Linked DNA regions of Homo sapiens: all the other regions are linked to region 3. The links come from fine-mapping of genetic effects on gene expression. A gene starts in region 3. Each other region holds a variant in brackets. All regions are shown on one strand. Distances are between the middles of the regions.

The links. PIP is the estimated chance that this variant, and not a neighbour inherited with it, causes the effect.
Region 1: its variant is the best candidate, but not a certain one, in a credible set for the expression of LNP1 in spinal cord (GTEx, PIP 0.59).
Region 2: its variant is the best candidate, but not a certain one, in a credible set for the expression of LNP1 in thyroid (GTEx, PIP 0.86).
Region 4: its variant is the best candidate, but not a certain one, in a credible set for the expression of LNP1 in visceral fat (GTEx, PIP 0.72).

Annotation. Positions count from the first base shown.
Region 1 is chr3:100,432,383-100,438,304 of GRCh38, reverse strand. The region is part of intron 2 of LNP1 (leukemia NUP98 fusion partner 1); the gene reads right to left. Among named protein-coding and RNA genes, the nearest start is that of LNP1, 34 kb to the right of the region's middle. The variant G/C (reference allele first, on the strand shown) is at 3,074.
Region 2 is chr3:100,442,652-100,448,573 of GRCh38, reverse strand. The region is part of intron 2 of LNP1 (leukemia NUP98 fusion partner 1); the gene reads right to left. Among named protein-coding and RNA genes, the nearest start is that of LNP1, 44 kb to the right of the region's middle. The variant T/C (reference allele first, on the strand shown) is at 3,157.
Region 3 is chr3:100,398,121-100,404,042 of GRCh38, reverse strand. LNP1 (leukemia NUP98 fusion partner 1) reads right to left here and starts at 2,504. Exons shown (of 4, transcript NM_001085451.2): 1 at 1,604-2,504. TOMM70 (translocase of outer mitochondrial membrane 70) reads left to right here and starts at 2,954. Exons shown (of 12, transcript NM_014820.5): 1 at 2,954-3,417. The coding sequence starts at 3,094. RefSeq lists silencers at 2,486-2,565, 3,176-3,255 and enhancers at 2,626-2,715, 2,726-2,775, 2,826-2,935, 3,617-4,536.
Region 4 is chr3:100,454,304-100,460,225 of GRCh38, reverse strand. LNP1 (leukemia NUP98 fusion partner 1) reads right to left here. Exons shown (of 4, transcript NM_001085451.2): 4 at 3,907-4,449. The coding sequence ends at 4,300. Among named protein-coding and RNA genes, the nearest start is that of TMEM45A, 35 kb to the left of the region's middle. The variant C/T (reference allele first, on the strand shown) is at 2,710.

The DNA.
Region 1 (5,922 bases), 34 kb before region 3:
TGTTTTTCTTTAAGTGACAATAAACCTAAAAGGAAAGTTGGGGAGGGGGAAATTGGTTATGTAATATATTCACCTCAAGAGCTTAACTACTCGATGTTCTTTATTCTGGCTGTAATTGCAATCACCCTTCAATTGTATCCCTCCCACCCTGTAGTCAATGGTTAACAGCAAGATGAGACATAATGAGAAAGATCCAGGTGCTGGCATAGTAAGACCCATATTGAGTCCTAGTGCACAGTATGTACCTGGCACTCTGGGGCCAGGTCCTTGATAGCTAACTTCAGAATAAAGTCAACAAGGGAGTGATTCTTCCCCTTTTACATATGAGGAAAATGAATCTTAGTGAGGCTAAGTCTTGCCTAAGACTTATGTGACTAGTGACTTTATTAGAGAGATAAAGTGACATGCCTAAGCATGTGACATCTGGTTCCTGGATTAGCAGTATTAAATCCTTTATCTTTAACAACAGCAACAACTTTATTCTATTTCCATGTGAAACTGCCTGTAAATGTGACTTTTAGCCATGTACCAATTTAAACAGAATTCTATTATAAAGTTAGTAATAATAATCTATAGGTCTTTAGGAATTCATCTGAAAGAATTTTATATGAAGAGTATTTTATAACATAGTCTAATGCTATCATCAGAGCCAAGAGGACTACAAATGAGTGGACTAGCTATACTTGGAAACACTATCAGGGAAAACATTCAAATATTCAACTGGTAAAATGATAGTTCTTTGAGAAATAATAAAGATAAGCTTAGTAACCATGCACTGTACATCCTTTTGGGAAGCCAAACAATGTTTTAAACTAATCAGTAAAATAACTTTTTTTAATTGGGGAAATGAACAGACCCTGCTTGGTCACACTATTACACACTAAATCAATGCAAAACTGTCACCAACACCATATCGTAAGTTATATAGTGGCCAAACAGAGGAGAGCTATAAGAAGAAACTCCTGTGAGCTTATAACGCTTCACACCTCAGGAACTTGGAATCTTTTCCTAAAGCAAAATTCAAGGACTTGTCTTACTCATCCCGAAGCTGCAGTAGCCAAACTAAGCCCATATAAACCATATGCCACTGAGATCATAACCCCAAATGACATTAAATTAGGTCATGTATAATAATGTTTTCCCTACTAGCTCTCCACTGTCTGGTGATGATGCTTGTTATGAAAATGTATTAGTCAGCTTGGGCTGCTATAACAAAATACCATAGGCTGAGTAGCTTAAGCAACAGAAATTTGTTTCTCACAGTTCTGGAGGCTAGGAAGTCCCAGATCTAGGTTCTGGCTAATTCAGTTCCTGGTGAGGGCTCTCTTCCTGGCTTGCAGATGGCTGCCTTCTCACTGCAACCTCACATGACTGCTTTTTTAAATGCATATGTGGGGATAGAGAGAGAAAGAAAAAGCTCTCTGATGTCTCTTCTTCTAAGGATATTAATCCCATTAGGCCAGGACCCCACCCTCATGAACTCATCTAACCCTAATTATCTCCCAAAGGCTCCATTTCCAAATACCATCACATTGGAGATTAGGGCTTCAGCATATGAATGGGGGAAGGGGAAGCACAAACATTCAGTCCATAACAGAACATATGTTACCTGCCAATGTTCAATATAAAATTACCAATTATCTTCCCATTGTAATATAAAAGAGAAACATAAAAGACAATGAAGTAAAGAGAAAATGAAAAACTCTAGAATTTTGTGCAGTAATTAGCTGAAGGCATCTGGAAAAAAATTTCTAAGTGTCAACACCTCTGACAGAGGAGGAGGAGGAGATGCAGAGGGAGGAGATGAGGGAGGGGAAAAGGAAAAGAGAGAGGGAAAGCATCTTATTAGGTATGTAAACGAAAAATAAAATCCTAAGCCCCTCATCAACTGAACAGACCCCCTCTTCACCAAGGGGATTCCATAAAAACCTTAAAAACTTAGTTCTGAGCCATGACGGGATGGGAGGTCAGATGCACCTCGTTGTACTCCCTGTCTTTTATGGTTTAGACACAACAATTGACCAGCATTAATGTTAAAATAGAGATCCTAACACTGACAGAACAAAGCCTTTGTGGCAATAAGATACCTAATTATAAACAGGACCTAAGGCCATGCCAGGCAAGGGTTAAGTTGTGCACCCCTACACTTAAAGAATAAACTATATTCTGACCGCCACAAGGTTTTTCTTTTCCTCTAACAGCTAAACAAGCACCGGCCCTGACATAAGCAGTATTAAAACAATTTGCAGCTCCATCAGATGCTGACTAGCTGATTCCCTTGTTCCATCAGCCATTACTACAGTTTTGATTGGACAAGAGATTGATTTCAATAACTTTCTCCTGACAAGACTACCAACCATGGACTGGTTCTAGCCAGTTTATGGGGGCTGCACACTCACTCACCTTCCTGTCCTAAGAAGATCTTTTCATGAATAGGGCCTAATTGTAATATGTTTAAATATTAAGTCTCCATCCCAAAGTGAACATGGGCCATACATGCTACATGTATGTTTGTTCAAAATTCCTGTGTCCACAGAACTGTGTCAGAACCACCTTCACGAATATTCACAGCTCCTCCTATAAACTGTTGCATGTGGAAGTTTAGCCAATCTGTTCAGCATAAAGCTCCTACCCCCTACCCCTCCTCCTTTGAAGTGCCTGTCTCCAGTCTTTCTGGAGGCTATGCTTCCCAGGCTGTGGGATGGCCAACTTGCAGGCTATAAGCTTTACAAGAAATAAAGTCCCCTCTTCTTTTCTAAATGTATACACTGCATGCATTTAGTGTAAAAAAAATTATTTTTTTAATAAATAAGTTAATAGGTACCAGGCACTGTTCAAAGCACTGTATATACATTACTTATTGAATATTCACAGCACCTTTATGAGGTCTGTACTATGATCACCAATCCCATTTACATGTGGGGAATTGGAGGCAAAGAGAGCTCAAGCAGCTTGCTCAGAGTTATGCTGCTAGTAAATGAAGAACACGGGAGGCCAGCTCCAGAGCACTTGCTCCTGACCACTCCTCTCCACTGCCTTTCTAGCAATTCCTCCACCTTAGCACCTAGAAGAA[G/C]AGAGAAAAGTCCACAGAACATTATGCTAAAAGCTCCCTATAGAGTTCTCACTGGTACCTGAATTTCTATCATTAGTTTCATTTCCTTGGATTAAGGAATTGCCTCCTATGAAAATTAAATTCAAATATCATCTGAAATACATCTGAAATACAAGAAGCCACTGCCAATCATGACACTTGATAGTATGTGTTCTCTCCCAGGTTTGTGAGAACTCCCCTAAGAGGGCCATGCCCCACCTGCCCTGTAGTGAGATACTATAAGAATGAGAGTGCAGCCATCTGAAAGTAGATCAACAATAAAAAACTAAAATTACAAATATCTTTCATCACTGTAAATTGAGAGCATGGAGGGAGAATATACAATGGAGAAAGGTAATTTAATTAAAAAAAAAAAAAAAAAGACAGCCGGGTGCAGTGGCTCACACCTGTAATCACAGCACTTTGGGAGGCCGAGGTGGGCAGATCACCTGAGGTCAGGAGTTCAAGACCAGCCAGGCTAACATGGTGAAATTCCATCTCTACTAAAAATACAAAAATTAGCCAGGCATGGTGGTGCACGCCTGTAGTCTTGACTACTCAGGAGGCTGAGGCAGGAGCATTCCTCGAACCCTGGAGGCAGAGGTTGTAGTGAGCCGAGATCTCACCACTGCACTCCAGCCTGGGCAATAGAATGAGACTTCAACTCAAAAAAAAAGAAAAAAGAAGAAAAAAAAAAGGAGGCATCACACTACCTGACTTCAAACTATACTACAAGGCTACAGTAACCAAAACAGCATGGTAACAGGTAACAGGTACCAAAACAGAGACATAGACCAGTGGAACAGAATAAAGAACTCAGAAATAAGACCACACTTATATAACCACCTGATCTTTGGCAAATCTGACAGAAACAAGCAATGGGGAAAGGATTCTCTATTTAATAAATGGTGCTGGGAAAATTGGCCAGCCATATGCAGAAAACTGAAACTGGACCCCTTCCTTACACCTTTTACAAAAATTAACTCAGGATGGATTAAAGACTTAAATGTAAATCCCAAAACCATAACAGCCCTAGAAGAAAACCTAGGCAGTAGCATTCAGGACATAGGCGTGGGCAAATACTTCATGATGAAAACACCAAAAGCAATTGCAACAGAAGCCAAAATTGACAAATAGGATCTAATTAAGCTAAAGAGCTTCTGCACAGCAAAAGAAACTATCATCAGAGTGAACAGACAACCTATGGAATGGGGGAAAATGTTTGCAATCTACTCATCTAACAAAAGTCTAATATCCAGAATCTACAATGAACTTAAACAAATTTACAAGAAACAAACAAACAAACCCATCAAAAAGTGGGCAAAGATATGAACAGACACTTCTCAAAAGAAGACATTTATGCGGCCAAAAAAACATATGAAAAAAGCTCAACATCACTGATCATTACAGAAATGCAAATCAAAACCACAATGAGATACCATCTCACACCAGTCAGAATGGCAATTATTAAAAAGCCAAGAAACAATAGATGCTGGCAAGGCTGTGGAGAAATAGGAACACTTTTACACTGTTGGGGGGAAAGTAAATTAGTTCAACCATTGTGGAAGACAGTGTGGTGATTCCTCAAGGATCTAGAATGAGAAATACCATTTGACCCAGCAATCCCATTACTGGGTATACACCCAAAGGAATATAAATCATTCTACTATAAAGACACATGCACATGTATGTTTATTGCAGCACTATTTATAGCAAAGACATAGGACCAACCCAAATGCCCATCACTGATAGAGTGGATAAAGAAAATGTGGTGCATATACACCATGGAATACCATGCAGCCATAAAAAAGAATGAGATCATGTCCTTTGCAGGGACATAGATGAAGCTGGAAGCCATCACCCTCAGCAAACTAACACAGGAACAGAAAACCAAACACCACATGTTCTCACCCACAAGTGGGAGTTGAACAATGAGAACACATGGACATAGGGAGGGGAACAACGCACACACTGGGGCCTATCAGAGGGTAGAGGGCAAGGAGAGGGAGAGCATTAGGACAAATACCTAATGCATGCAGGGCTTAAAACCTAGATGACGGGTTGGTAGGTGCAGCAAACCACCATGGCACATGTACACCCATGTAACAAACCTGCACGTTCTGCACATGTATTCCAGAACTTTAACTTTAAAGAAAAAAGAAAAAATCTTGGGTGTACATCGGTAGAGACTTATTCTGTATCCTTCAAAGTATATCATGTGGGCAAGTACATATGGTGACTTCCGTGGAGCATAGAAGAAGCACTGTGGAGGTCCGTCTGGAGTTACAAAAGCCCTGGGCCAATAAACTCGGTTTCTTCTCCCAAAGATCTTTCATTTAGCACAGTCTTCCCTTCCACGAGCCCCAGACTACATAGAACAATGTTAACAGAACCATGTTAAGCTGAAGGAGATGATGACTAGAAAGCTAAACAGACTAAAAGTATTAAAAATGCACTTCCATAGAATAAATAAATGACAGGGAAACTGTTTTATTTCAGTTTTGTATTCATATGATGTTGGAGAGAGAAGGCAAGTCAGTTTAATAATGAGAGACTTCATATTATGTTTTTTCACTAAGGACAGCAGAACAATAACATGGGATTTCTTTATTCACTTTAATTCAGCAAACATAGGTTCTAATGAGTCTGGGGAAAAAGTAGCATTCTATAAAAAGGCCTAAGCTTTACCCTTTGTTGTACCTAATTCTTTCTGCCAAATTTGTATTTTCTACTAGACTGACAGTCCCACAAGTGTGGGGACTGGGCATGTCTTCTTTCACCCTGTGATACTCGGACAATGTTTGGCTCACAGTAGGTGTTCAATAAATATG
Region 2 (5,922 bases), 45 kb before region 3:
ATTTGTTTGCATTTATTAATCAAGTAATTTTATGCTTATCCCTGCCAAATACTATAAGGTGACAAAATTTGACATAGGGGTTACAGAACTATAAACCCAGCCAAAAACAGAATGATCTTTACTCATGTAATATTTAATAAATATGACATTGATATTGGTTTAATAAAAATAGCTACATTTTGAATTTAGTAAGATTAGCATAACTTCTAATCTTGTGGTTTTAGGCAGTCTAGTCCACAGGCAGTAAGGTTTGTTTTGGCAAAGGACTGTTATTGTCTTTGTTTCAAAGTAAATTATAAACTAAGTTTCTCCCAAAGTTAGTTCAGCCTATGCCCAGGAATAAACAAGAACAGCTTAAAAGGAGGTTAAAAGCAAGATGGAGTCAGTGAAGTCTAATCTTTTTCACTGTCTCAGTTATAATCTTACAATGGTGGTTCCATAACGTTAAATGATGACTATCACAGTTTTCATAAATTAGGTAAACAATTAAAATAAAATAATTAGGTAAAAGTAATGGGATAAATACTTGTAGACAAACTCATCATAATTTAGAATCTGAAGTTAATCTAAAGAATAGAGATTTCATTATTTGGGTATTTTCCAGTTAAAAATATATTTGTAGGAAAACATTCTTTCTTAAAGAAAAGGTGTGTCATTTTAAAAAAGAAGAACAATTTTTGTCTAATTCAAAGCTTATTTAAAGCTCATATATAAAACAAGGTAACAGGAACCAGGAAACAAGAGCGATGTAAAAAAAAGTTATCAAAATAAAGAGGGAATTTTCTTGTAAGAAAGCTTAAAGAGAAATAATTTCACAGGAGAAAGACTCTTGTATGGTAAATTTAGTCCTAGAGTAAAATGACTGGTTGTTTAAGGAAGAGGGATGCTCAGGACAAACCAGAAAATCTAAGCATGTTGTGAAAGGTCTGTGTAAGTCATAATAAAGGGATTTTTTTTTTAATTCTTTTTTTTTAAATTATACTTTAAGTTCTAGGGTACATGTGCACAACATGCAGGTTTGATACATAGGTATACATGTGTCAGGTTGGTTTGCTGCACCCATCAACTCACCATTTACATTAGGTATTTCTCCTAATGCTATCCCTCCCCCAGCCTCCCACCCTCCAACAGGCCCCAGTATGTGATGTTCCCCCCACTGTGTCCAAGTGATCTCATTGTTCAATTCCCACCTATGAGTGAGAACATGCGGTGTTTGGTTTTCTGTCCTTGTGATAGTTTGCTGAGAATGATGATTTCCAACTTCATCCATGTCCCTGCAAAGGACATAAACTCATCCTTTTTTATGGCTGCATAGTATTCCATTGTGTATATGTGCCACATTTTCTTAATCCAGTCTATCGCTGATGGACATTTGGGTTGGTTCCAAGTCTTTGCTACTGTGAATAGTGCCATAATAAATATATGTGTACATGTGTCTTTATAGTAGCAGGATTTATAATCCCTCAGGTATATACCCAGTAATGGGATCGCTGGGTCAAATGGTATTTCTAGTTCTAGATCCTTGAGGAATTGCCGCCCTGTCTTCCACAATGGTTGAACTAATTTACACTCCCACCAACAGTGTAAAAGCATTCCTATCTCCACATCCTTTCCAGCACCTGTTGTTTCCTGACTTTTTAATGATTGCCGTTCTAACTGGTGTGAGATGGTATCTCATTGTGGTTTTGATTTGCATTTCTCTGATGACCAGTGATGATGAGCATTTTTTCATGTGTCTGTTGGTTGCATATATGTCTTCTTTAGAGAAGTGTCTGCTCATATCCTTTGCCCACTTTTTGATGGGGTTGTTGGATTTTTCCTTGTAAATTTGTTTAAGTTCCTTGTAGATTCTGGGTATTAGCCCTTTGTCAGATGGGTAGATTACAAAAATTTTCTCCCATTCTGTAGGTTGCCTCTTCACTCTGATGGTAGTTTCTTTTGCTGTGCAGAAGCTCTTTAGTTTAATTAGATCCCATTTGTCTATTTTGGCTTTTGTTGCCATTGCTTTTGGTGTTTTAGTTATGAAGTCCTTGCCCATAACTATGTCCTGAATGGTATTGCCTAGGTTTTCTTCTAGGGTTTTTATGGTTTTAGGTCTAATATTTAAGTCTTTAATCCATCTTGAATTAATTTTTGTATAAGGTGTCAGGAAGGGATCCAGTTTCAGCTTTCTACATATGGCTAGCCAGTTTTCCCAGCACCATTTCTTAAATAGGGAATCCTTTCTCCATTTCTTGTTTTTGTCAGATTTGTCAAAGATCAGATGGTTGTAGATGTGTGGTGTTATTTCGGAGGCCTCTGTTCTGTTCCATTGGTCTATATATCTGTTTTGGTACAAGTACCATGCTGTTTTGGTTACTATGGCCTTGTAGTATAGTTTGAAGTCAGGTAGTGTGATGCCTCCAGCTTTGTTCTTTTTGCTTAGGATTGTCTTGGCAATGCAGGCTCTTTTTTGGTTCCATATGAACTTTAAAGCAGTTTTTTCCAATTCTGTGAAGAAAGTCTTTGGTAGCCTGATGGGGATGGCATTGAATCTATAAACTACTTTGAGCAGTATGGCCATTTTTACGATATTGATTCTTCCTATCCATAAGCATGGAATATTCTTCCATTTGTTTGTGTCCTCTTTTATTTCATTGAGCAGTGGTTTGTAGTTTTCCTTGAAGAGGTCCTTCACATCCCTTGTAAGTTGGATTCCTAGGTATTTTATTCTCTTTATAGCAATTGTGAATGGTAGTTCACTCATGATTTGTCTCTCTGTTTGTCTGTTAATGGCATATGGGAATCTTCATGATTTTTGCACATAGATTTTGTATACTGAGACTTTGCTGAAGTTGCTTATCAGCTTAAGGAGATTTTGGGCTGAGACGATGGGGTTTTCTAAATATATTTTTTTAAAAACCAAAAACTTTGATATGATCCAGTTGTCATAATACTATTAGGTTTTGGTTTGCTAAAATAAACTGAGATTAAAAATGTTTTTTAATTAAGGTTCTTACATCGTGTATCTCTCTGTATACACTTTTAAATACTTGTGACATTGAGTTACAGGCTTTGACTCCTGGGTCTAAAAAGGAAACCAAGTCCTGATAAATGTTAAACACTGACAGCAATTAAAGCCCTATCTTCAGGCCCTGTAGAAAATGCCAATCAAAA[T/C]AAACTGCATTCCTGAGACCCAGGGCCAGAAATTAAAGCTATTCAACTCCTCAAGGCCTGGGGACTGTCAAGGAAGAGGTGGGTGTGTGAAATTGTAAGGGCTAATTTTGAGAGATAAAATAAGTTCAGTTTCTCTATACTTTTTTTGAGAGAGAGTCTCGCCCTGTCTACCAGGCTGGAGTGCAGTGGTGCAAGCTCAGCTCACTGCAACCTCTGCCTCTGGGTTCAAGCAATTCTCCTGCCTCAGTTTCCCAAGTAGCTGAGATGACTGGTGCCCACCACCATGCCTGCCTCATTTTTGTGTTTTAGTAGAGATGGGGTTTCACCATGTTGGTCAGACTGGTCTCAAACTCCTGACCTCAAATGATCTGCCCACCTCAGCCTCCCAAAGTGCTGGGATTACAGGCATGAGCCACTGCACCTAGCCAGTTCCCCTATAAATTAATCATCAATGTCAAAGGCACACTGATGCAAGACCAGCACATGGGCCCCTATGTCAAATCAACATGGTTTTCTTGAAGCATTAGCTGACGCCTTAATAAAGGTTATAAAGGTTTTCAAAGGCTTATGGAAGGTATATCTTACAGACAAGATTAAAATTTTATAGATTGTTTATAAAATTTTGAAAAACAAATTTAATTGGCTTCATGCAGTTTTTATTAGGGCTTACTGTTTGGAAAATTAAGTCTCCTATCTCAAAGAATGAAGATTTCACCGTTTTAAAAAAATCCTTTGAGTTATTACTTTGGTTAAATGAAATGACTTATTTCACAATGACCTGTGATCCTATTTTGTGATATCAAGTGTTTTAAACCTTGGATATTTGACAAATTTTCCAAATCAAATAATAAATTATGTCTTTTCCTGACCTAATTAGTCCTTTAAGACATGAGGTTCCCTAAAGTCCAAAAATGACATAATTGGCTTAGTTGGTATTACAATTATACAGGAAGCATTATCAAATATAAAATGGTGTTTGGTTTTCTTAGGGCTGTATTTCTATAAATATGTTATTGGTATGTGTTCCAGAAGTATGGGAAACTCCTATAATTCTGATATGACTTAATGGACATTATAAGTAATAATTATAATTGTTAGGTTAAATTATTGTGTGCCACATAAGTAACAATTTTCCTTGTCAATTGTGTCTTTATGACAACTTTTTTGTCATCCATGGACAATTATTGTCTTGTGTTGATCCTCTTTAGGAGGTGGTTTTATAATCAGCTATAAAACTCTTAACAGGTGCTCTTGAATGAGGTTTCTGATAACTTTGGAGACAGTGACATCAGAATAGAAGAAAAACTTCAAGACTCATGGAGAGCTGAAATGTTTATGACTATCAAGCAGAGCAGGAATTAACTCATCAACTAAACTAATTATAGAAGTCTGAAGTAATCTTTTTAACTTTTTGCCTAAAACACTGCTGAGCCTTTGTTTTGTTTTTCAGAGTCAAGAAAAGTTTTAAGCTATTTACAATAGGTTTTAACAACTGAGTAAAGTATACTCCTATGAACAAAATTTGGAGCATATTTGTTTTCTCTCTACCTGATTTCTCCAGAATTTGGAAACTGTTTGGGAGTATTCTTAACTTATGGCAATACAGTTATTTGCTTAAGTGCAATAAGAATCTGTTTTCATTTACAACAGGACACAATTGGAGAAACTTCTTATTTTACCAAGGCTTTGACTGGAATGGTGTGCTTTCCTTTAAGGAATCAAAGTTGACTTACAAAGCCACTAAAATCCCTGGGGAAAACTGGCCGCAAACTTGTCTACGCAATTCCTGTATGGGGTTCCTGACCTGTGGTAAGTAAAGAATGTAACGTTCTTATAGGCCTAAGAGCCTCAGGTTTTATCTTAGAACCTCAAGAGGAGAGGATCGCCCAACTCAGCTCAGCTTTTAAAAAAGTCTTATCTGAGATTCCTTCTATGGAACAAAGTTCCATCAAAGCCAATTTAAAAGCCTATGTAAAAAATAATTATTCTTGTTGAACTGTATACAAATGATTAGGCCAAGTATAATAAAGCACAGCAGTCCTACCATGATTTGTCTTTGGTAAAAATGGGAAACTGGAGAGAGAAAAATTGTTTCAAAAACTATAGCACACCTGTTGTTAGATTCTAGTCTTGCCTAATGTTTTTCAATTTTTATTATTTTCTACATTTTGGACCGAATTCTGTATTTTCTTGGCTCCAAGTCTTCAAAGCATTGTTTTCCATTTTTTCCTTCTTTTTTTCCCCATGTTTTTCTCATTTGGAGTCATCAAAATCCAGGCTGTGCTTTCATAAAGCCCTGCAAACTGAAGCTAGACAACTTAAACTTCAGAAGAAAATAACAGCAACCTATTTACATACATAAGCCACTAATACCTGCCTACTGATGTATGGACTTCAGAGTAATGTGACCAATATTGATTTTCCAGAATTGTTCTTTTGTTTGTTGTTGTTTTTCTTCCTTCCTCCTCCTATTTTCTCTTCATAGGACATGAGACTTCACAACTTGCTAAAAATGAGCCTGCATAACAACTCAGGACCTACCTGTCTAGGAATAAACCATCCTATCTGTGAGAGATCAGATGAAACCTGAGACCAGAGACTCATTTTCTTCTAAAATACTTATTCCAAAAGATTTTATTTTTAAAAAAAGGAGGGAAATGTGAAAGAAAAATAATCTTGGGGCCCCCAAATCACTAAGCTAAAGGGAAAAGTCAGGCTGGGAACAGCTTAGGGCCAACCTGCCTCCCATTCTTTCAAAGTCACCCC
Region 3 (5,922 bases):
TGAAAACATCAGACAGCTGAAAGAGAATAGAGCTGTTCTATATGTACATGCTTAATATAAGCAGATTTGTGCACTGGCTGGAAGGTTTGGACACCAGTCAACCAGCTATTTACCAACTCTAGCAATCTGAAAGGCCTTTCATGTAGCAATGACAATTGAAGGGACAGAATTACATCATTTTAAAACAATAAGGAGCCTTAAAAATAATCTAATCCACCCCTCCTCACATTATAAAGAAAGCAGAGTTGCCCATGGTCACACACACAACTCAGTGGTATTAAAATTTAGAATAAGAATTCAGGTCAGCTGGGCATGGTGGCTTATGCCTGTATTCCCAGCACTTTGGGAGGCCGAGGCAGGTAGATCACCTGAGGTCAGGAGTTCAAGACCAGCTTGGCCAATATACAAAAAATTAGCCTGGCATGGTAGCAGCCGCCTATAATCCCAGCTACTGGGACGCTGAGGGAGGAGAATTGCTTGAAGCCTGCAGGCAGAGGCTGCAGTGAGCCAAGATGGCGCCATTGCACTCCAGCCTGGGCAACAAGAGCGAAACTCCATCTCAAAAAAAAAAAAAACTCAGGTCTTCCACAACCTAGTCCATTAGACTATCTCATTTAACTGCCTCCTAAGATACAGATCAAAGGTGAAGAAAGCTTCTTCAGTTGAGTTCCACTAATCTACCAAGAAAAAGATAATGTCTATGTTCACATATACAGAACTTTAATTTTTTAGAAATGAAAGGCAGTATTTTACTTCTTTACTTTAAAATTTAGAAAAACTGAGAACTAATCATCAAATATCTATTGCTTTGTAACAAACATCAAAAGAACTTTAAATATTCTCTAATTAAATCTTTACTATAGCCTGAGAGGTAGATGTTTTCACCATTTCACAGATTAGAAAAACATGCATCAGATCAGTAAGGTCCCAAAGCCAGTAAGCGACACTCTATTTGGCTCTACAGTACCATCAATTAGGAAATGGAGGAGAAAATGAGAGAATAGCATAGGCTAGAGAATGGAAATGAGATGTTTATCAAAGTATAAAAGTAACCAGAACAGATTCGTTTACTAATGCCAACCTTAAAAATAAAGCCAAACAAAATCAGGCCTTTAGATAAATATTAATCCAAAAAATGTTTCAAGAAAATAACACCGATTCCCTTTGGAGAGGGGAACTGTGCAGCTGAGGACAGGGACTGAAGGAAGACTTTTCACAGTAAACTCTGTAACTTTTGGAGTTTAACCGTAACAGTGTATTGCTTACTCCAATAAATAAGAAAAAGGTTTAAAAAAAAAACTTCAAATATGTTTTAGTTCCTATCAAGTTTGTAATTGTTAGCACTCTACAATCCTCCAAGAGGCCACAGCAAAACTGAAATTTCAGAAAAAAAAAAAAATCCTAACTTGTGTTCTGAAAAAGGCAAGGCAGAGCTTATATTAAGGGGCAGAAAATTTGCCTTTGGGGATTGGGGGATCAGGAGGGGAGAAAAGCCTATTGCCTGCAACGATCAACTCAATTCCACTGCTATTTTTAGCCCATTTTTTTAGTCTGTTGCTAAGAAACCCTATTGCCTGAAGGCAATTTACTAATAGGAACTTACATGAAGCAGGAGAAACCGGTGATCCTGAAATTCTTTCCAATTAGGCCATTCTATTTTAATCAGTCCATTCTGGTGCCACTTGATAAAATATCTCCTTTCAATCTTTATGTAGCTCTACTGTGATGTTGTTGCACTTAACAGCAAAACAATCATTTATGAAATCTTAATGTAAGGCTTCTGCAAACCAGTATACCAGAAATGGAGAACCATAGTTCTGGACTCTGATTTTTCTATTAATAGTTGTCTTCATGAAAATACCGTGTATTCCAAACAATACCTTGCAAGGTAATTTTATATTTTAAGAGATCTGGTGCAGAGCATCGGAAAAAGAGTTGATAAAGCTATTATAGATAAAAAGCTGTGAACTGAAATTACGATTTGGGAATGAGACGAGAAGAGGGCTGAGACTGCTACTGCAAAACAACCCGGGGGGCGTGCGGATCAGAGCGAGATGTGGGCTGACGCAGAAATCAGCTCAAGATACAAATACGCCAAGAAAGGCTCGAAGCCGGCGGGAACCCTGACGCTTCGCATTTCTACCAACTCAGTTTAAGAAACCCCTAACAACGCAGATGTCATCGCTTCGTTAATTGGTGCCGACGATGAGCCACAGCGACCACGCTCAAACCGTTTCGACTGCAGCCAACCTAGATGTGCCATTTCCACCTAGTCTTCTGCCATCGCTATCTCCCCTATAACCTCAAATTCGTCCAAACTAAAATCTCGCTATGTTAGTGATAAGAAGTTCAGTGATGCAGCAGCCTTCTTCAGCGGTGAGCTCTTTCCTCACACATCTTTAAAAGTCCTTCTAATCCGTTGGTTTCTCGGGCACGCGGGCAGAAAACCGTGCTAACGGCCACAGAGGTTCAAGAGGTGCCAACGTGGCTATAACTGGAAAACTGGATCCGAAATCGACCAGTAAACTGGGTAGCTCGGTCTACGCCCCGCCCACCACCCTTGCTAGCCAATAGCCTTCACAACTCTTCTGCCACTCCCGCCCATTCCAGTGCTGTGCCGCTGCTTTTTCTTCCACTCGGATCTCTTGAGCGCCCTTAGCCCGCTGTATACGCGCCCCTCCTCGGCTTCAGTAGGCAAGAGGGCCATCTGCCCTTCTTTCCTGAAGGTAGAGGGGACAACACCAGCTACGACGGGGACTCCAGAAGTCCATCTCCCGAACAGCAGCGGGGCGAAAAGAAAGAAAAAGGGTTTCCGAAGACTCCTACTCACACCCACGCTTTCCCTTAACCCGGAAGTGATTTCCGCCCCTCCTCTCCCTCTTCGGTTGATACTGGAGGAGAAGGACGGCCAGGTCTGGCCCGGCATGCCCTGGGCTTCCGGTGACCTCTGGCCCTTTTCTGTCGTCCGCTCTCTCTGCCTAGCGTGCTCGCTCGCTCATTGCTTTCCTTCCCTCCCTCGGTCTTCCTTCGCACGCTGTTTGGTGATTGTGGCGCTCGCGACAGACAGGGAGGCGGTGGCAGAGGACACTTGTCATGGCCGCCTCTAAACCTGTGGAGGCAGCGGTGGTCGCAGCCGCTGTACCGAGCTCCGGGAGTGGGGTGGGCGGCGGCGGGACTGCGGGCCCGGGCACGGGGGGGCTGCCGCGATGGCAGCTGGCTCTGGCGGTCGGGGCACCCCTGCTGCTGGGCGCGGGTGCCATATACCTGTGGAGTCGGCAGCAACGGCGCCGGGAGGCCAGAGGCCGGGGCGACGCCAGCGGCCTGAAGCGCAACAGCGAACGGAAGACCCCGGAGGGCAGGGCCAGTCCGGCCCCGGGCAGCGGACACCCTGAAGGTCCCGGTGCTCACTTGGACATGGTGAGAAGCAGCCCCAGGCCGTAGAGGAGGAAACTGGCTCGTGCAGCTTTTCCTTGGCGGGTTGTGTCAGTGAGGGGGCTTCCCATCAGACGGAAGCTGCCAAGCGGCAGCACAACACTTGGGTTTAGGGAGACTCATTTCTGGCTGCCAGTGGAGGGCATAGAGTAGCTCGATGACAGGTTACTGGCATTCTTTGACAGTTTGCTTTTGGTTTCAGAAAAATCCTTTGCTTTTCTTCTCAGTGACACAGCATTTATCCCTAGTGTTGTAGATGGGAGTGGGGCATTTGCAAATGTGATGATTGTATTTAATAAGTGAAGGAAGCTAAATTCGATTAACAATTGGTACATCGTGATACGAACTGTTTCTGTGATTTCCAAAGCCTACAACCTAATCGCTAAGAGCCTTTTAATAATGAGCCACTCCCCCTTTTGGAGTGTGTTTTTGCTGGGGGTAAGTGGGCAACTACAGTGACGGTTAGTTGACAAAAGCAAAACAAAAACAAAAACGATTAGATGGCTTTCTACATAGAAAAAGAAAGACTACACAGGTTCTAAAGAGTGAAATGGTGTTCAGTGGCATTTGTTTTACAGCCTCTGAACTGTAAGCAGAACTGTCAAGCTCCCAAGGCTCGTCCTCTCTCAGCAACCCCGAAGCCCCCTTGGCTGCAAGCACTCAGCGCCCGTAACCTCTCCTGCCATGCCCCAGCCCCAAGGTGTCCTTTTGCACTCCGGACCCCTTGGCCTTTGTCAGAAAACGCTCTGCACTGCACTGTCCCCTCTTGCTGCACAAGAGTAGCGGCCACAGCAATGCTCACCAGGCTTGGTTGCACACAGCCCCCTGCCCCAGGTCCAGGCCTACACACACATACAAAAAAAAAAAAAAAAAAAATGGGAGTGACTTCTTAAACTTTTTGATTGGAAGCATCTTAAATTCAGTTTTTCCATTTCACCTGGAAATGTACATGACCAAGCCTAATATGCATGATACAGTTTCTCTGATGTGAGGCCAAGCATTGGATTATTTAGTGAACTGCTTTGTATGGTTTTGGTGAACTGACTGTTAAATCCTTTTGGTATCTGACAGCTGTGCAGAGAATTAGTCTGGCTGCATTTGACAATACTGGGATTGGGTGTGGTGGATTTTCTCTGGGTCTGGAGTTGTTCAATGGTAGTACCAGAGTAAGTCGAGGTCAGAGAAACGTTTGGTCAAATATCTCCCAGTTTTATACATAAGTATATACAGTTGGTCAAGTAACTTCTAATTGTATCCAAGTGTATACACTTAAATATGTATGCAAGTCATTTCCATATTATACTATTCAGGTTGAATTTTTTTTTTTTTTTTGAGATGGAGTCTCACTTTGTTGCCCAGGCTGGAGTGCAGTGGTGCGATCTCAGCTCACCACCACCTCCGCCTCCTGGGTTCAAGCAGTTCTGCCTCAGCCTCCGGAATAGCTGGGACTACAGGCGCGCGCCACCATGCCCCGCTAATTTTTGTATTTTTAGTAGAGACGGGGTTTCACTGTGTTGGCCAGGCTGGTCTTGAACTCCTGACCTCAGGTGATCTGCCCATCTTGGCCTCCCAAAGTGCTGGGATTACAGGCGTGAGCCACCGCGCCCGGGCGAAGATATTTTTACTAGGATGTCAAATTAGCTTTAAAGGAAGTTTTGGTGTAGGAATGAACAAACTAGTATCTGCAGTGTGTGAGGCATTGTGCTAGGCCATGAGAAAGCCATATGATCTTTCCTATGGGAGAGTGAAGCATTACCTATTTTCTAAAAGGTTTATGACTGGATAGTAGAAGAACTTATGGACTGTGTTAGAACTAGGATTTGTAAGCTTTATAGTGGGCTCTCCAGCATTGTCACTTTGGGAAAGTCATTTTGTCTCCTTGACCTTAGCGTCATCCCTGTAGAATAAGAGGATTAAAATATTAGATCTCTTCTGTTTCTTTCAGTACTAAAAATTGATGATTCTCATTATGATCATTTATAATAGCTCACTGCTGCTATTAAAAGTAGTTATCAAGAGGATTATTTGAATTAATTATCACTTGTCTTACATCAATTTTGGATGTCTGAAATTCTCCAGTCATTTTCTATTTCGTTTGTTAATTTAGTTTTAATCATGGAAGAATAGTAGGTAAAATAAAAGATCCAAAAAGTTCTCAGTTCTGTAAACATTAAAAATAAAGATAGTTTCTATACATGAAACTAAATTTTTTTTTTTTTTTTTTTTTGAGACAGCGTCTAACCCTGTCACCCAGGCTGGAGTGCAGTGGCACGATCTTGGCTCACTGCAACCTCTGCCTCCTGAGTTCAAGCAGTTCTCCTGCCTCAGCCTCCTGAGTAGCTGGGATTACAGGCATGCGCCACCATGCCTGGCTAATTTTTGTATTTTTAGTAGAGACAAGGTTTTGCCTGGTTGGCCAGGCTGGTCTCAAACCCCTGACCTCAGGTGATCCACCCACCTCGGCCTCCCAAAGTGCTAGGAATTACAGGC
Region 4 (5,922 bases), 56 kb before region 3:
TGGGGAAAGTTTCCCCAGTGCTGTTCTCATGATTGTGAATGAATTCTCACAAGATCTGATGGTTTTATAAAGCAATTTTCCCTGCTCTTGCTAGCTCTCTCTTTCCTGCCATCAAGTGAAGAAGGTCCTTGCTTCCCCTTCGCCTTCTGCCATGATTGTAGGTTTCTTGAGGCCTCCCCAGCCATGTGCAAATGTGAGTCGATTAAACCTCTTTTAAACCTCTTTTCTTTATAAATTACCCAGTCTTGGGCAGTTCTTTTTTTTTTTTTTTTTTTTTTTTTAGATGGCGTCTCACTCTGCCACCCAGGCTGGAGAGCAGTGGAGCAATCTCAGCTCACTGCAACCTCTGCCTCCCAGGTTCAAGCAATTCTCCTGCCTCAACCTCTCGAGTAGCTGGGATTACAAGTGCCTGCCACCACACCTGGCTAATTTTTGGTATTTTTATTAGAGATGGAGTTTCACTGTGTTGGCCAGGCTGGTCTTGAACTCCTGACCTCAGATGATCCACCTGCCTCGGTCTCCCAAAGTGCTGGGATTACAGGCATGAGCCACTGCATCTGGCCTTGTGCAGCTCTTTATAGCAGTGTGAGAATGGGCAAATATAGGAAATCGGTACTGCAGAGAGTGGGGTACTGCGATACAGGTACCAAAAAATGTGGAAGTGACTTTGAAACTGGGTAACAGGCAGAGGTTGGAACAGTTTGGAGGGCTCAGAAGACAGGAAAATGTGGGAAAGTTTGGAACTTCCTAGAGACTTGTCAAATGGTTTTGACCAAAATGCTGATAGCAGTGTAGACAATGAAGTCCAGGCTGAGATGGTCTCAGATGGAGATGCAGAACTTTTTGGAAACTGGAGCAAAGTTCACTCTTGCTACGCTTTAGCAGAGCAACTGGTGGCATTCTGCCCTTGCCCTAGAGATCTGTGGAACTTTGAAGTTGAGAGACATTATCTGAAATTGGAACTTATGTTTAAAAGGGAAGCAGAGCATAAAAGTTTGGAAAATGTGCAGCCTGACAATATGGTAAAAAAGAAAAATCCATTTTCTGGGGAGAAATTCAAACTGGCTAGAGAAATTTGCACAGGTAACAAGGTGCTGAATGTTAATTACCAAGACAATGGGGAAAATGTCTCCAGGGCATGTCAGAGACTTTCACAGCAGCCCCTCCCATCACAGACCCAGGGGCCTAGGAGGAAAAATGGTTTCCTGGGCCAAGTCCAGGGCTCCCCTGCTGTGTGCAGCCTTGGATTTGGTGCCCTGCATCCCAGCTGCTCCAGCTGTGTCTAAAAGGGACCAAGGTACAGCTCAGGCTGTTGCTTCAGAAGGTGCAAGCCCCAAGTCTTGGCAGCTTCCATGTGATGTTGGTTCTGCGGGTGCACAGAAGACAAGAAATGAGGTTTGGGAACCTCTGCCTAGATTTCAGAAGATGTATGGAAACACCTGGATGTGCAGGCAGAGGTGTGCTGCAGGGACAGAGCCCTCATGGAGAATCTCTGCTAGGGCAGTGCAGAAGGGAAATGTGGGGTTGGAGCCCCCACAGAGAATCCCTACTGGGGCACTGCCTAGTGGAGCTGTGAGAAGAGGGCCTACCATCCTCCAGACCCCAGAATGGTAGATACACTGACAGCTTGCACTGTGCACCTGGAAAAGCTGCAGATACTCAACACTAGCCATGAAAGCAGCTGGTATATGGAGGGCTGGGCAGAGGGGCTACAAAGCCACAGGGATGGAGCTGCCCAAGGCCATGGGAGCCTACCCTTTGCATCAGTGTGCCCTGAATGTAAGACATGGAGTCAAAGGAGATTGTTTTGGGGTTTTTAGATTTAATGACTGCCCCACTGAATTTTGGACTTGTATGGGACCTGTAGCCCCTTTGTTTTGGCCAATTTCTCCCATTTGGAATGGGAGCATTTACCCAATGCCTGTACCCCCACTGTGTCTTGGAAATAACTAACTTGCTTTTGATTTTACCAGCTCATAGGTAGAAGGGACTCACCTTGTCTCAGATGAAACTTTGGACTTGGACTTTTGGGTTTAATGCTGGAATGAATTAAGACTTTGACTACTGGGAAAGCATAATTGTGTTTTGAAATGTGAGGAGATGAGATCTGGGAGGGGCCAGGGATGGAATGATATGGTTTGCCTGTGTCCCCACCCAAATCTCATCTTGAATTGTAAACCTCATAATCCCTTGTCAAGGGAGAAACCAGGTGGGAGGATCATGGGGGAGGTTTCCGCCATGCTATTCTTATGATAATAAGTTCTCATGAGATCTGATGGTTTTATAAGGCAGTTTTTCCTGCTCTTACTAGCTCTCTCTTTCCTAATACCATGTGAAGAAGGTCTTTGCTTCCCCTTCACCTTCCACCATGATTGTAAGTTTTCTGAGGCCTTCCCAGGCATGCAGAACTGTGAGTCAATTAAACCTCTTTTCTTTATAAGTTACCCAGTCTTGGGCAGTTCTTCATAGCAGTGTGAGAACAAACTGACACTCCCCTTTTCCTTTTTATTTCTACTAAGTCAAAGTCAATGCTTGCATAAGCAATCAATTACAGTATTAGTTATGAGTAGTACTTTTGGGGGATTTTCCTCTTCACAAAACGGGTAAGCTGCCCTTGGGCATTTGAAAGTCTAAGACAGATGAGGAATAAACAGAGAGAGCATTAGAGAACTCCAGTATCTTTGCTTTCAGGGGAAAACAATTAGTGAT[C/T]GATAGAGTATGGTTCCACAAAGTTAAAACCCAGTGCATAAAGCTGACCTCAGAGAATCAGTCTACACCCGTGTAATCAAAACTGCAACCTACCCTCACTCCTGCTATTCTCACTCACATCCACTCATTCACATGCACATCACACACAGACTATCTCAGAACCTGCTACTAGAGGAAAATGAACATCCTGCCTCACGTTAGGACCATAAGCTCTGGCATCAGAATGAACTGGGCTCTGGCCCTAACTCTGCCACCACACCAACAAGGTACAGAACTCTCTAAACTTTGTTTCCTCATCTAGAAAGTGAAGAAAAAAATAGGTCTGTGATGGTTAATGTTAGGTGCCAGCTTGACTGGATTAAGGGGCACCCAGACAGCTGGTAAAGCATTATTTCTTTCTGCACAGATGTGTCTGTTAAAGTGATTCTGGAAGAGATTGGCATTTGAATCAGTGGACTGAATAAGGAAGATCCACCCTCACCCATTGTGGGCAGGCACCATCCAATTGGCTGAAGACCTGGATAGATAAAAAAGGCAGAGGAAAGGAGAATTTTCTGCCTCTCTCTCTCTCTCTCTCTCTCTCTGTCTCTCTCTCTCTTTCTCTCTCTCTCTCCATCTCCCTCAAAGCTAGGATGCCCTTCTTTCCTGCCTTGGATATTAGAACTGCAGGTTCCATGTGGCCTTCGGAGTCAGGGACTTGTGCCAGTGACTCTCCCCTACCCTACCTTCAACCTAGAACTGAAAGTTATATAATCAGCTTCCCTGTTTCTGAGGCTTTCAAATTTGGACTAAGCCACCCTACTGGCTTCCCTGGTTCTGAGGCCTTTGAACTTGAACTGAGCCACACTACCAGCTTCCTTGGTTCTCCAGCTTGGAGACAGTTTATGTTGGGATTTCTCTGCCTCCATAATCATGTTAGCCAATTCCCCTAATAAATCCCTTCTCATATATTCTCTATCCCTATTTATCTCTATCTCTATCTCTATGGATCTATCTTTAGCTCTATCCTATTGGTTCTTTCTCGCTGGAGAATCCTGACTAATACAAGGTCCCACCTCAGAGTGCTGAAGCTTATTTTAGGTAATGCATTAAAGCATCCAGCATAGTACTTGGCATGTTAATTACCAGTTCTCCTTAAATGATGGCCATTAGACATACTTACATAATTACTTCTGGATAAGAAAGTAAACTCAAGAGTCATACCAATGACTTTTATTTAAGATGATTTATGAGTTGATGTGTGAGAAGGGTTGGTGAAGCTATGTGGGTGGCTCTTTAAATACCTTCCATTATATTTTCAAATTTTTCTTTATTCTATTAAAATACCTTTTATTCTCTTTATTCCCATAAAAAGGCAACCAAGCAGATTATACTCTCAACTAAGATGCCAGCAGTAATTGGGGTATGATGCAAGTCATCTTGGAGCAGCTACATACCCTGCCCACTGCAGTCAGTCAGCATCTGCAGTTGCTTTTTATAGCTGTTTTTACCCCCAACCCCGCCCCCATCCACATCCTGAAATGGTGAATTGGGGCTCAAAGAAAAAAACCAAAACAGTAGCATCTGATGTCATGAGGCAGAAGCAGAGTATTATTCAGGCCCTTTTTCAAACAGGGGAGCCATGTGTGCTTCTCCATGCTCTTCTTTCCTAGAGCTCCTTTCTTCCTCTACTTTCTTTCGGGATTTTATCTCCATCCTCAGGCATTCTCTTTCATTTCTCTCCTTTCTGCTTTCAGGTCCCTGAAAGGGAAAGATCAGAAACAGGTAAAAATGCACAAGCAGCTGACAACACTCCACATTTCTCTTAATAATCAGACATGGAGAAAGCCCTGATGGTTTAGCAGACTTCCACCTCTTGGTTTCTAGAAATAAATTAGCATAAACCTAAGGATGTTGCTAAAGGTTTCGGTCACAAAGAAAAGAATAGAGGGGGTTGGACATCAGCAGATGGTCTGGGAAGGAAGTACAACCTGCACATGCCTATGACTCTTTGCCTCTGAACATACTGAGGGGTGTGATTTCATGGCACAATGAAATTAATAGTTCCCTGGTGCTTTTTGAAACGGAAAGTGGCAAATGAGATCACACATGGAATGATTCTTAGCTTTCTGTGTTCACTCCCTTAAATTACTTTAATAGTAGAGTTTGCACTAAATTTTAATGTGAGGACTGTGGGAAGAATGAACTGTTAAGGAATGACGCCCAACCAGATTAACACCCCCCGACATGTGTCCCCAGGATTCCACATTATTCACTGATTAATTGAACATAAACTGTTGTTGTAGGATCAGGAGATATAACACTAAATAGACCTACTTCCTAGATATTACACCTAGGTGGAGGGATACAGACAGTCATCAATAAACCTAAAAGGAAATGAAAAAATAATCAATAGTGATAAGTGCAATGATAACTGTAAACAGAGTGATAGGGACCTACTGGAGGGTGGGGGGGTTGCTTCTTTAGTTATATGGCCAGAGGGTGCCTTTCAAAGGAATTATCAAAACAATGGCATGGATAAATGTGGCCACCGTATCTATTTATCCTTCTGTTTTAAAAAATAAACAAGCAAAATCATTACTCCTCTCCTGTTTGAACTAGAAATGTTGGGAAACCCCTGAGTGCTTATCAGGTGAAGTTAAGCAGTGGTGAGTGGTGGTCACATGAGCAAGGTCATGCTTGCTCAGCCGTGTTAGTTGAGAGTTATTGAGGCATCTGTTTAACACAGTGGTGTCAGCCGCTCTACAATGTTAACGCAGTCATGAAGGTCTCTTATCAAAATGGTATAAGAAAGAGAAAATAGAGTGATGATTAAAGACTATCTGAGAAATGCTTGTAAATAATGCCCTGAAATACATTTTATCACATCTCTTAGATGCTAAATGTGAAAATTATCAAAAGAAGCCCACTGAATTTTTAAATATCAAAATGAAAGAATTTAACATTGTTGGTCATGATCAGGACACAGAAACAGTTTCTGGTTCTTTTTTATGTCAAAATATGTAAAATTTAAATCTAGGTATTAGTATACATTTGGTCCCCAAACAAAAGACGATATAAATCATTTTTAAATTTACTGAAAAAGAACACTTTCTAATGTAGTTAGCCTTAGGAAAGTGTGTAGATTATCAAATAGGGAAAAGTTGAAGTGTATCTGTATATGTTCGGAATTTCTAATTTTGCATTAAGATTTTATAATGTACTCTTTAAAAA